Regions from separate parts of the Homo sapiens genome. Here region 1 is linked to region 2. The links come from fine-mapping of genetic effects on gene expression. A gene starts in region 2. The other region holds a variant in brackets. All regions are shown on one strand. Distances are between the middles of the regions. Region 1 overlaps LOC105369850 (a long non-coding RNA gene). Region 2 holds the start of NAP1L1 (nucleosome assembly protein 1 like 1).

Region 1 (8,338 bases), 500 kb before region 2:
GCTCTGGCCAAGTTATATGTCAAATCACAAAGGTGAAATGAGATGACTGTCAGGTCATATGTTTGAGGGGGAGGAATGGAATTACAAAGAAAGGGATACCATGACACTTGGAGAAAGAGTTATGAGGAAAGAAAACCAATGGGGTGCTTAAGAAAAGGGCTTGAGTCAGAGTCAGCTGGATACCATGTCTGACACAGTGAACTATGATAATCCTCACAAAACATTTCTAAAATGATTGCCTTAGGATTGCACTGGCTGCATGGCCAGGGTTCTCATTTCTCATTTCCTTTTCTTAGAATTAAGGTGATGCTCTTTGAAATGTCTAAAGATAGATGACTACCATTGGTAGTCAACCCTGAGGTTTTTTATGTACAGGCCCAGCACTGAGCTAAGTGTTTTGTATGCAATTGCACAACATCTTTATGAGGATAGATGCTATTATTATCTGTTTCTCTAAGCATGGGGAAACTGTTAACCTCAGGGTGTTGAGTAACTTGCCCAACATCATACAGCTAGTAAATAACAGAGCCAAGACCCAAGACCTAGGCCCGCATTTGCTGGCTTAAAAGTTTAAGCTTTTTGCTTTTTTTTTTTTTTTCCAGTGGTGCTATCTAAGCTTACTGCAACCTCTGTCTCCCAGGTTCAAGCAATTATTCTGCCTCAGCCTCCCAAGTAGTTGAGATTGCAGGCATGCACCCCCATGCCTGGCTAATTTTTAAATTTTTAGTAGAGATGGGGTCTCACCATGTTGGCCAGGCTGGTCTCGAACTCCTGAACTCAGGTGATCCATCTGCCTCAGTCTCCCAAAGTGCTGGGATTACAGGTGTGAGCCACCGTGCCTGGCCCCAAGGTTAAGCTTTTAACCACTGCATCACACTGCACCTCAGGTTTCAAGATAGGGAAACTCAATTTTTAAAAATATTTATAAAGCATTTACATTTTTTCCATATCTCATTTTATAAAGTGTCTTAGCTAGTAAGCTTAAAAATTATTTTCTTCGGCCAGGCATGGTGGCTCATGCCTGTAATCGCAGCACTTTGGGAGGCCGAGGCTAGCAGATCACCTGAGGTCAGGAGTTTGAGACCAGCCTGGCCAACATGATGAAACCCCATCTCTACTAAAAATACAAAATTAGCCAGGCATGTTGGCACGTGCCTGTAATCCCAGCTACTTGGGAGGCTGAGGCAGGAGAGTCACTTGAATCTGGGAGGCAGAGGTTGCAGTGAGCTGAGATCACGCCATTGCACTCCAGCCTGGACAAAAAGAGCGAAACTCTGTTTCAAAACAAAAATAAATAAATAAAATAAAATAATTTTCTTATCAAGAAAATGCAAATTAATCTGCAGTGACAGAGAGTGGATCAGTGGTAACTTGAGGATGGGAAAGTCCCAAGAGTGGCAGGAAGAAGAAATTACAAAATAGCATGAAGAAACTTTCGGGAATGAAAATCAAAATTTGTAAACATATTTATCACTGCCAAAAGTTAAAGAGTCTTGCTCAAGATTAGCCTGAGAGTTAGTAGCAGAGACAGGATAAAAATATAGTTTTTAAGCTTCTTGAACAAGTGTTTTTTTCCTCTCAATTTGGTAAATTATTTCCATATGGTTTTAAAAAGGATATGAAGAGACATAAAATATGACATGAGTATTATAGAAAGAAAATTGTGTTTAGGAATTTTGGGCAGCACTATTCACAATAGCAAAGACATGGAATCAGTCTAAATGCCCATCAATGGTAGACTGAATAAAGAAAATGTGGTACATAGACACCATGGAATACTATGCAGCCATAAAAAAGAATGAGATCATGTCTTTTGTGGGAACATGGATTGAGCTGGAGGCCATTAGCCTTACCAAACTAACACAGGAACAGAAAACCAAATACTGCATGTTCTCACTTATAAGTGAGAGCTAAATGATGAGAACTCATGGACACAAACAGGGGAAAAACAGACACTGGGGCCTACTTGAGGGTGGAGGGTGAGAGAAGAGAGAGGAGCAGAAAAAATAACTTCTGGGTACTAGGCTTAGTACCAGGGTAACGAAATAATCTGTAAAACAAACCCCCATGACATGAGTTTACCTATATAACAAACGTGCACATGTACTCCTCAACCTAAAACAAAAGTTAAAGAAGAAAGGGAGCCTGTGAAGCCCCTCAGTCACTCCTCCTACATCTCATCCTGTTCTCCCACTGATCTAGCTTAAAGTCTTCCTGCTGGAACATTTCACCCTATACCAGGTGGTGGGGAAAAAAATTTTTTTTATTAACTTACGTATCTCAATTGAGCATTGGAAGTCTATTGTGAATTCATCTGATGAAAAAGTTGAATGCATCTCTTCAGAAGTTTATCATTATCATCTGCAATCTACTGAGAACTTTTTAAAAAATGAATCCTGCAATTGTATGGCCAGCAGGGGGCAACTAAATACTTCCCAAAACAGCATCTTGTATAAGAGAACAAGTTAAAATTGGAGACTGTTAGCATTCTTAGCTGTGTAGGAGAGCTGACTTCCTTCTAAAATGATAATTAACACCTAGACACATTCTCACAATACTGAATTTGTGAAGATAATTGGAACAGTTTCCTAAGTGGACAGATTATAAAACCACATTCTGGGGCCTGTATGTGGCAGATTTGTTTTGGCTGTTTTTTCAGTCCACAAGGTTCCTTGCAAAAATTTATGTATTTTATGATGAATAGCTTTGTAAAACTTCTTGTATTATAGAAAATATAATGAATCTTGACTTATTTCTGTAGGTTATTTTAGAATTCTGCTATTTTTACTTAACATTCAAAGATAAAAGTAAATAGGGATTGCAGAGGATCTTGTTCTTAAAGTATAATAAAGAATCATTTCTTAGCCCTGTTTTATAGAACTAATTTTTAAGCTTGTTATATTAGTTAGGGTTGTCCAGAGAAACCAAACCAACAGAATGTGTATACATATAGATATTATAGATATAGATGTTTATTTTAAGGAATTGGCACACATGATTGTGGGGACTCAGTTTCTGCTTGAGTCCAAAGGCAACCTGCTGGCAGAATTCCTTCCTTCTCTGGGGAGGTCAGTCTTTGATTTATGAAGGCCTTCAACCGATTGATGAGGCCCGTCCATATTATGGAAAGTAATCTGCTTTACTTAAAATCCACTGGTTAAAATGTTAATCTCATCCAAAAACACCTTCACCAAAACATCCAGAATAACGTTTAACCAAATATCTGGGTACCACAGCCCAGCCAAGTTGTCAAATAAAATAACCATCACAGTTGCCTATTTCTTTACATCACAGTCTCAAAGTCGTAGGAGATCTATATGGTGAAATAGCTCAACCCTCCTCCAGATGCAGCTGCAATGCCTGGCAAAGAGAAAGCATTTAGCAAATATATGCTGATTTGAATTGAACTGAATGTATATGAATTGAATTAAATATCCCTAGTGGTGGCTAGGTTCTGCCAGGCTTCCAGTGCGGTGCTGGGAGGTAATGGAAGATAGAAGTTAGGCACAGGCTCTGGAGTCAGATAGGTCCATATGCTGAGGCTCCCCTACTTACCTTATATGTACCTTTGGATGAATAACTTAATTTTTCTAAGCCTACATTTCTTCACCTATATAAAAACAACAGTCATAATAGCTATTTATGCTACATATTGCTTTGTTAATCAATATTTACTTCTCTTTCCTTTCTGGCCACTCAGTGGATTGACTGTATTCCTCAGCGACCCTACAACTGAATGGAGCCATGTGACTTGGTCTGGCCAGTGAAAACTGTAGATTTTACGTGTGTCACCTTCAGGATGTGGCAGTAAAAGGTCGATATGAAATTTTTTTCTTTCCCGACTGTGGCAACCATGGAAAAAGATTCATCTTAAGATGGCAGCACCACAAGGTTGAAGCTGCCTGGATTATCACGTTGTTGCATGGAAGACAGTTGCCTGGAGAGTTGCCTGCAGCCAGAGCTAACTTTTTGTTAAACATTTGCTTTTTCTCCCAACTGCAGCACAACCTAGACTATTCTCATGTATTGTCTCACAGAGTTGTTTTGAGGATTCAATCAGATATTGTTTCGCAGGAAACTGCTCATTTGACAAGCCATAAGCACTCAAATGTTATAATTATGATATTTCTTTGCCTTGATCATTATAGCAATTCAAAACTCAAACAATAAAATTAGAGTACCAGGTAACTTTTGTTTAAAGTATTAGTATTCTAACTCTTTAAACTTCTCCTCTGAACACTGCCTTGCACACAGTAGGCATTCATAAATAAACAAAAAAA[A/T]TTTTTTTTTTTTGAGACAGGGTCTCACTCTGTCACCCAGGCTTTAACATGGTGCTACAACCAAGGCTCACTTTAGCCTTGACCTCCTGGGCTCAAGCAATCCTCCTGTGTCGGACTCCCAAGATACTGGGATTACAGACATAAGCTGCCACACTTGGCTGCTGGGATATTTTATTCCCTTATTGTTAGACTGGCAAGATTTAAGTTTATTTCTTTTGCTAGACCTAGGTTCTCATAAAACAACTACTTTTGGTTAGAGTTACCTATTAAAAAATGTATTACTATCCTGTCATTAATGGGGCTTAGGCAGTGATAGCTGCTCACACATCTTAACTCTTCCCTGAATTCAGACCCAATTGATAGGAAGCCAAAAAGATAAAATACCAACTTCTCGGCTTGGCATGGTGGCTCATGACTATAAGCCCAGCACTTCAGAAGGCCGAGGTGGGAGAGTTGCTTGAGTCCAGGAGTTCAAGATCAGCCTAGCATAGGGAGACTCCATCTCTACAAAATGTTTGAAAAATTAGCCAGGCATGTGGCATATGTCTGTAGTCCCAGCTACTTGGGAGACTGAGGTAGGAGGATCGCTTGAGCCAAGGAGGTAGAGGCTGCAGTGAGCAGTGATATTATGCCATTGCACTCCAGCCTGGGTGACAGAGTGAGACTTCATTTCAAAAAAGCTTCCTAAGATAAAGCTGATTGGATGTATTATAATATACAACCATGACCAGGTTTTTCAATATTTCTTTTTTTTTTTTTTAGACGGAGTCTCACTCTGTCACCCAGGCTGGAGTGCAGTGGCGTGATCTCAGCTCACTGCAACCTCTGCCTCCTGGGTTCAAGCAATTCTCCTGCCTCAGCCTCCCGAGTAGCTGGGATTACAGGCACCTGCCACCATGCCCAGCTAATTTTTGTATTTTTGGTAGAGACGGGGTTTCACCATGTTGGCCAAGCTGGTCAAATACTTCCTAAGTCCAAATGGGTGATGACTCGCCACAGGAGAATTTGAGTCTGCACGATGGATAGACTTGTGTAGAATCACTGTTTCTGCTTGGTGAGATCAACAGTAGAAAGAATGAGAGTTAGGCCTCAGGCCTGTTCTAGAAGACAAGCATAGGCCCTAATCCGTGTGTTTTTAGTTTATGACATATATTGAGGAACTGAGCAGAATATAATTTCTTGTGGGTGGGAAGATTTGAAAAAGATGGCAAGAAATGGCTTGGGTTTTATGTTTTTCTCCCCAAATCACCAATTAAATACAAAACTCCTTCCACTTGGGGAAAGTGGCAGAAAGAAAGATGAAATTTCCTCTTGACTCTATAGTTCTGAAAGAAACATATTTCTATTTTAAGAGCCAGGTAGGAAAACTGTGAGGCAGAGAAGATGGTTCCTTTTAATATAAACAAATAAATTATTGTTCTTGTGGTCTGAATGTTTATGTTCCCCCAAAATTCAAATGTTGAACTCCTCACCTCCAAAATGATGGTATTGGGAGGCGGGGCATTTGGGATATTATTAGATTATAGGGTTATTTCCCTCATTAATAAGATTACTGCCATTATAAAATGGGCCTGAGAGAGAACCCTCAGCCCTTCCACCGTGTGAGGTTAGAATGAGAAGACAGCTGTCTATGAGGAAGTAGACCCTTACCAGACACTGCATCTGCCAGTATCGTATCTTAAACTTCTTAGCCTCTAGAGCTTTGAAAAATAAATCTCTGTTTTTTATAAGCCACTCACACTATGGTATTTTGTTATAGCAGCATGAATGGACTAAGATACTTGTGATATTCTTGTAAGTTTTTATGTTCTGAAGTTACCTTATAATTATATAAGAAATAGGGTTTTTATGATATACTAAAAATCAATTAATTAGTACAAAAATTAAAAGTATCAAGAAGAAGTCACATATGCTAACATTTTTAGTGATAATTTTTCCTAACTTCCTCCCTACTTTTTGCTGGTAATAAAGTTTTCCTAATTTTTACTCATAATAAACTAATCCACAGGAAACATTCAATAGCAAATCATGTATAAATACTTAGCATATACTATGTGCAAAATACTTTGCCAAATGAGGGGATACAGACATTTAAAAAAATCAGTCCTGATCTTACAGTCTAGGGAAAGAAACAGATTTCAAAAAATATATTTACAATATGGTGTGTTAAGCCATTCACAGTCCAATGAATGGACTATGACAAATTACCTGCTTAATATCCATTTTCTGCTTCTTCCTTAGTAACAGAAATCCAATTCAAGTTTGGATGACAACGTAAACTTAAAAATATCCTGTCTCTCTTGCAGCTAAGAGTGACCTTACAGATAGCACATTTCTTTTTAAAGAAGTAGAAATCTCCCAGGGATTTTGGAATAAGTTGTGTCAATTCAAGTTTCTTGATTTAGGCACTATCCTCCCTTTTATATTTAAAACATGTTTTGTGGCAAGAACACTTAACATGAGATCTACTCTCCTTTTTTTGAGACAGAGTCTCACTCTGTCACCCAGGCTGGAGTGCAGTGGCACGATCTCGGATCACTGCAACCTCTGCCTCCCAGGTTCAAGCAATTTTCCTGCCTCAGCCTCCCACATAGCTGGGACTACAAGCGCCTGCCACCACGCCCAGCTAATTATTGTGTTTTTAGTAGAGACGGGGTTTCACCATGTTGGTCAGCATGGTCTTGAACTCCTGACCTCGTGATCCACTAGCCTCGGCCTCCCAAAGTGCTGGGATTACAGGCATGAGCCACCGCGCCTGGCAGATTTACTCTTTTAACAAATTTTTTTTTTTTTTTTTTAGACGGAGTCTCGCTCTGTCACCCAGGCTGGAGTGCAGTGGCACAATCTCAGCTCACTGCAACCTCTGCCTCCCAGGTTCAAGAGATTCTCCTGCCTCAGCCTCCCAAGTAGCTGGGACTACAGGCACCTGGCATTTTTTTTGTATTTTTTAGTAGAGACGGGGTTTCACTGTGTTAGCCAGGATGGTCTCGATCTCCTAACCTCGTGATCTGCCCGCCTCAGCCTCCCAAAGTGCTGGGATTACAGGCGTGAGCCACTACACCTGGACTCTCTTAACAAATTTTTAAGAAAATAATACATTATTGAAATTGTACAATGTTGCACAGCAGATCTCTAGAGCTTATTTACCTTGCTTCACTGAAACTTTATGCCCATTAATTAGTAACTTCCGATTTCCTCCTTCCCCCAGCCCTTGGAAACTACCATTTCACTCATTGATTCTATGAATTTGATTATTTTAGATATCTCATAAAAGTGGAACCATGCAGTATTTATCTTCCTGTGACTAGCTTATTTCACTTAGCATGATGTCCTCAAGGTTCATCCATGTTGTCTCATATTGCAGAAATTCTTCTTTTTAAAGGCTGAATAGTATTCTATTGTATGTATTTGCCCACTTCATCCATTCATCTGTCAATGAACATTGAGTTTATTTCCACATTTTGGTTATTATGAATAGTGCTGCAATGAAAATAGGAGTACTAATATCTCTTTAAGATCTTGGTTCCAATTCTTTTGGACAAAGACCTAGAAGGGAGATTGCTGGATAAATGGTAGTTCTACTTTAAGTTTTTTGAGGAACATCCAGACTATTGTTTATTTTGCTTTTGTTGCCTGTGCATTTGGTGTCATATCCATAATATCACTGCCAAGACCAAAGTCATGAAGCTTTTAACGTTTTCTTCTAGGAGTTTTACTATTTTGAGTCTGATGTTTCTAATCTATTTTTATTTTTATTTTTTTAAGAGACTGGGTCTTTCTATGTTGCCCAGGCTGGTCTTGAATTCTTGGGCTCAATTGATCTTCCTGGCATAGCCTTATTTTTTTTTCTTTTTCTTTTTTTTTTTTTTTTTTTGAGACAGAGTTTCGTTCTTGTCGCCCAGGCTGGAGTGCAATGGCGCGATCTCGGCTCACCGCTACCTCTGCCTCCCGGGTACAAGTGATTCTCCTGCCTCAGCCTCCCGAGCAGCTGGGACTACAGGCATGCGCCACCACACCCAGCTAATTTTGTATTTTTTAGTAGAGACGGGGTTTCTCCA
Region 2 (8,338 bases):
GCTGAAGTGGGAGGATTACTTGAGCCAGGGAGGTCAAGCTGTAGTTGTACCACTGCACTCCAGCCTGGGTGACAGAGTGAGACCTTGTCTCAAAAAAAAAAAAAAAAAAAAAGCCAGGCACAATGGCTCACTCCTATAATCCCAGCACTTTGGGAGGCCAAGGAGGGCGGATCACCTGAGGTCGGGAGTTTGAGACTAGCCTGACCAACGTGGAGAAACCCCGTCTCTACTAAAAATACAAAATTAGCCAGGCGTGGTGGTGCATGCCTGTAATCCCAGCTACTACTTGGGAGGCTGAGGCAGGAGAATCGCTTGAACCCCAGAGGTAGAGGTTGCAGTGAGCCGAGATCGCACCATTGCACTCCAGCCTGGTCAGCAAGAGCAAAACTACGTCTCAAAAAAAAAAAAGATTTTTTTTTTAAACAAAAAAACTATTAATCCTTTTTTTTGAATGTAGAGAGAAAAATGTAAGGCATCTTATCCATAATTTTCCACTTGGAATTTGATTACATTGCAGCTATAAATTAATTTGGGGAAAAGTAGAAAAAAAATCCAGATCTGAAACTAACGTAACTGTTATTTAAATGTATCTTGTGCAGTTTTTAGATGATAATTATTATTAGTTCCCTTGGATGTTTTACCTACAGATTAATTCAGAGGGAAGAAAATAAATACTGAGTACTTAAAGGGCAAGTCATTGCTCTGGGAACTTACATACATTTCTCTATTTCATGCTAATAAAGACACAGATTTTATTATAATTATTAATGCATTTTTCAGATAGGGAAGCTTGAAGATCAGAGTGGATAAGTACTTTTGCAAGGTCACAGTGTTGAAGGAGCCTATACCTGTCTGATGTTAAAGCCTATGCTTTTTTTTCTACTACATAGGGGCTGAAACACAGACACAAGCACAGGTAAAATACCATCTTTGTCATCAAATTTCTTGTTGATCTTCATAGTTCTTATCCAATATTGAGAAATGTTGACTATAATATTTTTGTGGTAATTGGTGTGGATTATTTCAGCTCAGGAAAATGTCTTTTAAAAGCTGTGACTAGATAGCTTTTAATAAAATATGTCACAAAAAGTGTCAGACACTATCAGAAGACTTCGGGGTAGTTCCTTAAACCTTTAAATAAAACAAAAATAAAAACAAAACTTCAGTAAGAGGTTAAAAATGGTTACCTTTTATTGAGCGGTCACTATATATGTCAGGCATTATGTTAAGCAACTTAAATGTGTTATTTAAAGTTTCACAGCTGAGCCAGGCACAGTGGCTTACACCTGTAATCCTAGCACTTTGGGAGGCCGAGGCGGGTGGATTGTCTGAGCTCAAGAGTTTGAGACCAGCCTGGGCATTGTGCAACCCCATCTCTACTAAAATACAAAAAAATTAGTGGGATGTGGTGGCGCGCACCTGCAGTCTCAGCTACTTGGGAGGCTGAGGCACAAGAATTGTTTGAACATGGGAGGCAGAGGTTGCAGTAAGCCGAGATTGCGCCACTGCACCTCAGCCTGGGTGACAGAGTGAGACTCTGTCTCCAAAAGTTTCACAGCTGGGCAAGGTGGCTCATGCCTGTAATCCCAACACTTTGGGAGGCTGAAGTGGGAGGATCTCTTGAGTCCAGGAGTTCAAGACCAGCCTGGGTAATATACCAAGATCCCTCTTGACTTAAAAAAAAAAAAATTTTTTTAAGTTTCACAACAGCCCTATGAAAAATGCATGCTTATTTTCCCCATTTTACAGATGTGGAAAATGAAACCTGGGATGGCTAACTGACTTATCCAAAGTTACACAGCTATTAAGTGGTAGAAAAATGGGGACAAAATAGGCTGTTTGACTCCAAAGCCACCCCTCTAAGCCTCCAGGCTACAATGCTATAAAAGTCTACCAAATGAAAATCATGGGAGATAGAGAAAAAAGGACCTTTAATTTTAGTATATATGCTTCCAAAGAGAGCATGAGAAAAGGAACTGCAACAGAAAATTTCGCATGGCCCAAGATCAGTGACCAGGGTCACCATTTATTGCAATTAAGTTAGATGAGTTAACTACATTGTGTGATTTGGGGGTATAAGAGGGGCCAATGTAAAAAGCTCAAAGGTGGCCGGATGCAGAGGCTCACACCTGTAACCCCGGCACTTTGGGAGGCTGAGGCAGGCGGATCATTTGAGGTCAGGAGCTCGAGACCAGACTGACCAGCATGGTGAAACCCCATCTCTACTAAAAACACAAAAAAACTAGCTGGGCGTGGTTGCGCCTGCCTGTAGTCACAGCTAATCGGGAGGCTGAGGCAGGACAATTGCTTGAAACCGGGAGGCAGAAGTTGCAGTGAGCCGAGATCGCGCCACTGCACTCCAGCCTGGGCAACAGAGTGAGACTCCGTCGAAAAAAAAAAAAAAAAAAAGCTCAAAGGTATCTTCAGGTCAGTCACCTCCTACCCCTTTTCTCATTTTATTTTCTTTATAGCATTCACTTATCAATTATTTATTATTGATAAGTGAAATTGTTTTATTACTAATATTTTATTAGTAAAATTATTTTATCTCTAATCATTTGCCTCACCTCACTAGACCATAACTTCAATAAAATCAAGAACCGTGTCTTTCTTACTAAATGCTGTATTTCCAGAGTCCGAAGTTGTGCCTGACATAAATATTTGTTGAATGAATGCATAAATGTCTGCCCTTCCCTGAACTTTAATGGCAAAGACTTAGATTTACAAACTGGTTCAAAAGACTATATTACAAAGGCATGCATTATTAGAAATATTTTATTGTTTAGTTTCTTAGATTGGCTAGGATACACTGAAAAAAGAAGAGGAAGCTGGAGAAAAGGGGGAAAGAGCATATGTACTGGTAATGATAACACCTAAGTTATAGGGGTTGGTGGGGGGGTGGTGAAACCTAAAAAATCCAGAGCCTTCATGAGCGAAGTGCCGAAAATTGATGAGGCTCTCTGGTGTGGGATAAAAACCACCACAAAAGCTAACTTCTCAATTTTGTCTCAGAAATTCTGCTACCATAAAGATTTATGGAAAGAAAGTGAAAGTTATTTAGTTCATTTTAATATGCTAATTACCTTGCATCGTGCACAGCTTTGATTAAAATGCAACATTCCTGAAGTTCTTATTGAAATTAATGTGTCAAATTTATGTTCAAACTGAGCACTGGTCTACCTTGTTTATGTATAGTGGGTTCTTCCTGAAGATCCATTATTGATGCTATTATGCTCCTTGTATCATTACATCATTGTTGAGAAGGGTGTACAGGAATAGGCTATGAGAACAACAAAGGAATTGTATATGAAAAACTAAAATGAATGAATAAACAGAGTCGTCTGCAGTATAGAGTGGGAAGGCAAATAATTTCAATGAGGTTCTGGAGGGCCAAGGAAAACATTGTATCCCCTAAAACGGAAGATAAAGTTGCTAAATGTGTGGATTACAATAGGGGATTCTAGGCAGTTTGAAGTTTCAATAAATGCAAGATTTAGAGAAGAGGTTCTCAAACTTTGTGGTCTTAGGATTCCTTTACACTCCTTTAAAAGTTGAGGACCCCAAAGAACTTTTATGTGCATTACTGATACTGATATTTATATCAGAAATTAAAAGTGAGAAATTTTAAGAGTATTTCATTTAAAAACAATAAAGCAATCAAATATTAACAAAAAATAATTTTTATATGAAAAATAACTACTCCCCCTTGCCCCCAAATCGAGTTTTTGCAAATCTCTTTAACGTCTGGTTTAACCGCAGATGACTGGATTCTCCTATCTGCTTCTATTTTCAGTCTGTTTCCTTATCACATGTCACGTAGCCTCCGGAAAACCCCACTGTACACTTGTGAGAGAATGAGAATGCAAAAGGCAGTCTTGACATTAATATGGAAATAGTTTTGACCTTCCCCATGAAAGGGTCTGGGGACCCTCAGACCATACTCTGAGAACAACTTTTTGAGTTAGTATTAGTCAATTCATCATCACTTGAAAATTAGCTATGAGGTTTTACAAGCCTGAGGATTTAATGTGATTTACTTTTTCAGAAAGATGAAACAACGGACGTACTGAGTGTCCTCATTATAACGCATCCAGAGAATGCACAAATATGCCATTTTCATCCGTCAAAAGAACTGAAGCCGAACTGACGGACTGTACATCAGTTACGAGGATGTGGCGGGGGGTTGGGGGGCAAAGGATGACGAGCACCCCCTAAAGGCGCGGAGACCCGCTGGCATAGGAGAAGCAAAACTGTCAGAAGAGGCCGCCGAAGTGGTCTAGAGGAAAAAACTGTTTTTCTTAGGCGGGGAAGGAAAACGGTTACCGGGGGCCGGCGAGTTGCAGGAATTAGGCCTTGACAGGGAGCGTCCGCCGTCTAGGCTGCGGCGAGCGAGGGACCAGGCGACTGGCGCCAGCCCTGAGCGTTCCCAGCACAACGCCGAAGGGGGCGGGGCGGGCCGGGCGCCGGGCACGCGGGCCAGGCCTTCCCCACAACTGATGGGGTTGAAATTTCCTTTCCGGCTCAGCAGGGAGAAAAGATATGGTGGGGTGCTTAACAGAGGAGGTTAGACACCGGCGGGAACCAGAGGAGCCCAAGCGCGGCGCCTGGGCCTCGGGGCTGCAGGAGTCCTCGGTGGGGGTATGGAGGTCGCCGGGGAAGGAGGACGGTTCAGTTGCTAGGCAACCCGGCCTGGACCCGCCTCTCGCTCGCGTTGCTGGGAGACTACAAGGCCGGGAGGAGGGCGGCGAAAGGGCCCTACGTGCTGACGCTAATTGTATATGAGCGCGAGCGGCGGGCTCTTGGGTCTTTTTTAGCGCCATCTGCTCGCGGCGCCGCCTCCTGCTCCTCCCGCTGCTGCTGCCGCTGCCGCCCTGAGTCACTGCCTGCGCAGCTCCGGCCGCCTGGCTCCCCATACTAGTCGCCGGTAACGGATGGGGGCCTGGAAGGGAAGGGGGAACGTGGTGTTGGCTGGGCGGCCTGCGCAGATGGGAGGGCCGGAGGGATGGAGGGACTGGGAGCCGGGAGTCGGGGCCGCTGGCCGCCCGTGGCCTCCGGGGTCGTCCTGTGAGGTCGGACAGGACCGCGGAGTCCGGACCCCGGAGCCTGAGAGGGGCCCCGGGGCCGACCAGCGCTTTTATCGGGGACGGCTGAGGCGACGTAGGGGTTGGCGCGGCCTGGAGGCCTAAGGTTCTCTGAGCTCCACCGTCTTTTCCGCGTGGACCGGAGCGAGGCCGCGGTGACGCCCGGGTGCCCTGAGACTCGGCTGCGCCGCGAGGACCGGGAGGCCCCCGGCGTACGGGCCGGGCCGAGTGCAGAGCCGGCCGCCTCTTGGACACCCCCCTGCTTTTCCCTCAAAAATAATACCAGGAGGGAGGCCGCTGGGAGATGAAAAGAACGGCGGAGGCTGCGAATTCCGACGGGAGGGAGGGGCTGTGGAGGGACGAGTCCCCGAGGCGGGGAGGGGGCGGGGGAGGCTGCGACGCTCCCGGGCTCTCCGCCCATTGGGGGCGGCCGCGCGGGGAGGGGAAACCCCCGGCGGCTTCGCTCCACACGTGGTAATGGGCTTCATGGCCACTGGCTGGGCCTGGTTGGAGACCCTTGCCCTCGGTCTGTGCTTACTTTGAAAGTTGTAGAGACGGTGGAATGTGAAAAGGAAGGGTAAGCGAGTAAGCCCTGTCCCTGGGTTTCAAACTCTTCCCTGCTTCTCTTTGGTCTTAATCTTTTTATTGGTACCAGAGATTGTGGATGTTAGCTGATGATAAGGAAGGGCCTCCACTGCTAGTATTTTAAAAAGTTAACGCGTATATAGCGCTTATATTAACTGTTATTAGCAAAAGGTTGTTATTGTGTTTCCCAGGTACTGTTAGATGGGTGTCTTGATCAGGGTTTTTTATTTGGGGAGTATTGATCCTGATCGATCTAAACCCCTAAACCAAGCTTGTCCAACCCGCGGCCCAGGACGGCTTTAAATGTGGCCCAACACAAATTCATGAGGTTTTTTTTTTTTTTTTTTTTTTGGAAAAAAAAGCTCATCAGCTAGTTAATGTATTTTACGTGTGGCCCAAGACAGTTCTAGTGTGGCCCAGGGAAGCCAAAAGATCGGACCACCCCTGCAAACGGTTCTTAGATGAAAATAAAATGTTTGGCCCTTTATGACTTTAATTGTTCTTGGCTGTCTTATAAATTAGTTCCTTTATTGAAGTCACTAGAATAAGATACTTAACGGTTTCCTTTTTAAGATGGGAGGTGGGATGGAATGAGGTGTTAGTATAAACTTTGCCAAGTTTGTAGCCTGCAACCTTGTCAATGAACCCTACTGCCCTAAAGATCTGGGGGATGGCAGTGTAGGGGGGCTGGGACTGAGGTCCCATCTGGGAAGGCTAGACTTTGAGAGTGCAAAAAGGATGAACCAGGCGCAGGATGTCCTCAAGGAGCCCGTATTTTAGACGGTCACTGATCAGTTTTGAAACAACTACATTTTAAAAATCTCACTGCTACATTTGAAGATATCCCACTGCTGCATTTTAAAATTTACACTGCTTGCCTGGTTTCACAAGAGCTGTAAAATGAAATTTGGCCTTTTGAAAATAGGTGGATTCAAAACATCTTTGGAAACGAGTATCTGGGTCCTCTTTTTTTGGTCAGCTTAAATTAATACTCCTATACTTTGGAAGTAATATACATTACCTTTGATTGAATAAGGGAAAAACCTTTTATGTATAGGGTACCATTTAAAAATCGAAGGGAAGTAAATGACTTTTACAGTTATTTTCAAGGCACTCTTGTGTTTCAAGCTTGTTTGAAGTTGCCCAAGTTTAAATAAATGGCCTAAATCTATAGTTTAGTTCTAAGAATACTGTCCTTTGGAGAATGTATGGAACTAAACCCTGGTAGGTGGACTTGGACATCTTCTGTCATAAAACCTGACTTTCATAGATTCTCCAAGTCAACATTATGTTAGTAAATAGAAATTTAAAAGTTTTCACTATACCAATTTGAATATCTTTCTAAATTTTATCTGCTACAAAGTGCCTATTTTTATATTAGGCCCATTGATTTGCAGAATTATAAAGCTAATACTGAATATGGTAAATTACTGCACTTGGCCTTTAATGAGATTTTTGAAACGAATACCTGTACCATAACTAATGTAATCCAAAATGCCATCTCATTTTATTCAGCTTGCTCCTGTTGGCTCCTGGTAAAACTGAGTTGATTCTAAATTCTCAAAATATATTCAAAACTAAGGGTCTTTTTGTAGAAGGGGCTAAAGAAGCAGTATCTGTTGGACTTCAAAGGTCTGAAGATGTCAAAATACAATATTTTATTCACTTCTTGGTTGTAAATTTGAAACAAAGGATTAGAGAGAATGACTCATCAATATCAAAATATTAATGATCAGTGTATTCAGATCTTCAAGTTTAATCAAACCTGTAATTGTGTTCTCAGTTTAGTCTTTGGGTAACTATCTAGCACCTGTATGGACATGTATCTTATGTCATGAGCAAAAGAGGCAAATTGGTTGCTTAGATGTAGAATGTTAAATTGTGATGAGAGCTATAAAGGAAGGAAAGGGTAAAGGGGTCAAAGAGTAATACAGCGTTTACACAAAGGAACCTGTTATAATTTGATGATTTTAAGTTCCATTTCAAACTAGTTTCATCTAAATAAGTTTTTGGGCAGAATAGGGGTTAGAAGGAGAGAGTTGTTACTTTACACCTATCCATATGTAAGTCGTTTAGCACAATGACTACAGAACATTAGAGTACATTAGTGGGCTTGCCATAGAAAATGGCTTCTATACCTTTGGTTACCAACTCTGCCTTTTACTTCCTGCATATTTGTATATATTTTTACTTATTCAGAAGTTTTGTACATTTTAATTTTTATTGGGAAACAGGGTTATATATATTTTTTCCTTGTGGAGACAGGCTCTTGCTGTGTTGCCCTGGCTGGTCTTAAATGCCTCACCTCAAGCGATTTTGCCTTGGCCTCCCAAAGTGCTGAGTGTATGGGTGTGAGCCACCACACCTGTCTAGAGTTATAATTTCAGTCTTGGAATTATTTTCTAAAGAGGGTACAGAAGAGCATAACAGGGATAAATAATGTAATAGGCAACACTGATTGATTATTCAGGCATTGTTTTAAATTCTGTGTGTATTATTAGCTCATTTAATTTACTTAGAGACAGGTAGCATCAACATTTTAACAAGGAAAAAAAATAGGTGTGGAGTGGTTAGATAACCCGTCCGTGGTTACGTACGTGAGCAGTGATAACTTATGATGAGATAATTTTTATCCTGGTTTTGAAAGAATGTTGACTTACACTGTTCTGCTA

What was found. PIP is the estimated chance that this variant, and not a neighbour inherited with it, causes the effect.
Region 1: its variant is fine-mapped to the expression of NAP1L1 in whole blood (TOPMed, PIP 0.93).

The regions. Positions count from the first base shown.
Region 1 is chr12:76,581,073-76,589,410 of GRCh38, reverse strand. The region is part of intron 3 of LOC105369850 (a long non-coding RNA gene); the gene reads right to left. Among named protein-coding and RNA genes, the nearest start is that of OSBPL8, 25 kb to the right of the region's middle. RefSeq lists silencers at 56-256, 5,206-5,406. The variant A/T (reference allele first, on the strand shown) is at 4,281.
Region 2 is chr12:76,081,153-76,089,490 of GRCh38, reverse strand. NAP1L1 (nucleosome assembly protein 1 like 1) reads left to right here and starts at 4,806. Exons shown (of 15, transcript NM_004537.7): 1 at 4,806-4,924. It overlaps LOC124902970 (a long non-coding RNA gene), which reads right to left and starts at 4,406. Exons shown (of 2, transcript XR_007063379.1): 1 at 4,324-4,406; 2 at 2,758-3,280. RefSeq lists silencers at 4,372-4,531, 4,972-5,051, 5,192-5,241, 5,312-5,371, 5,422-5,491 and an enhancer at 4,535-5,076.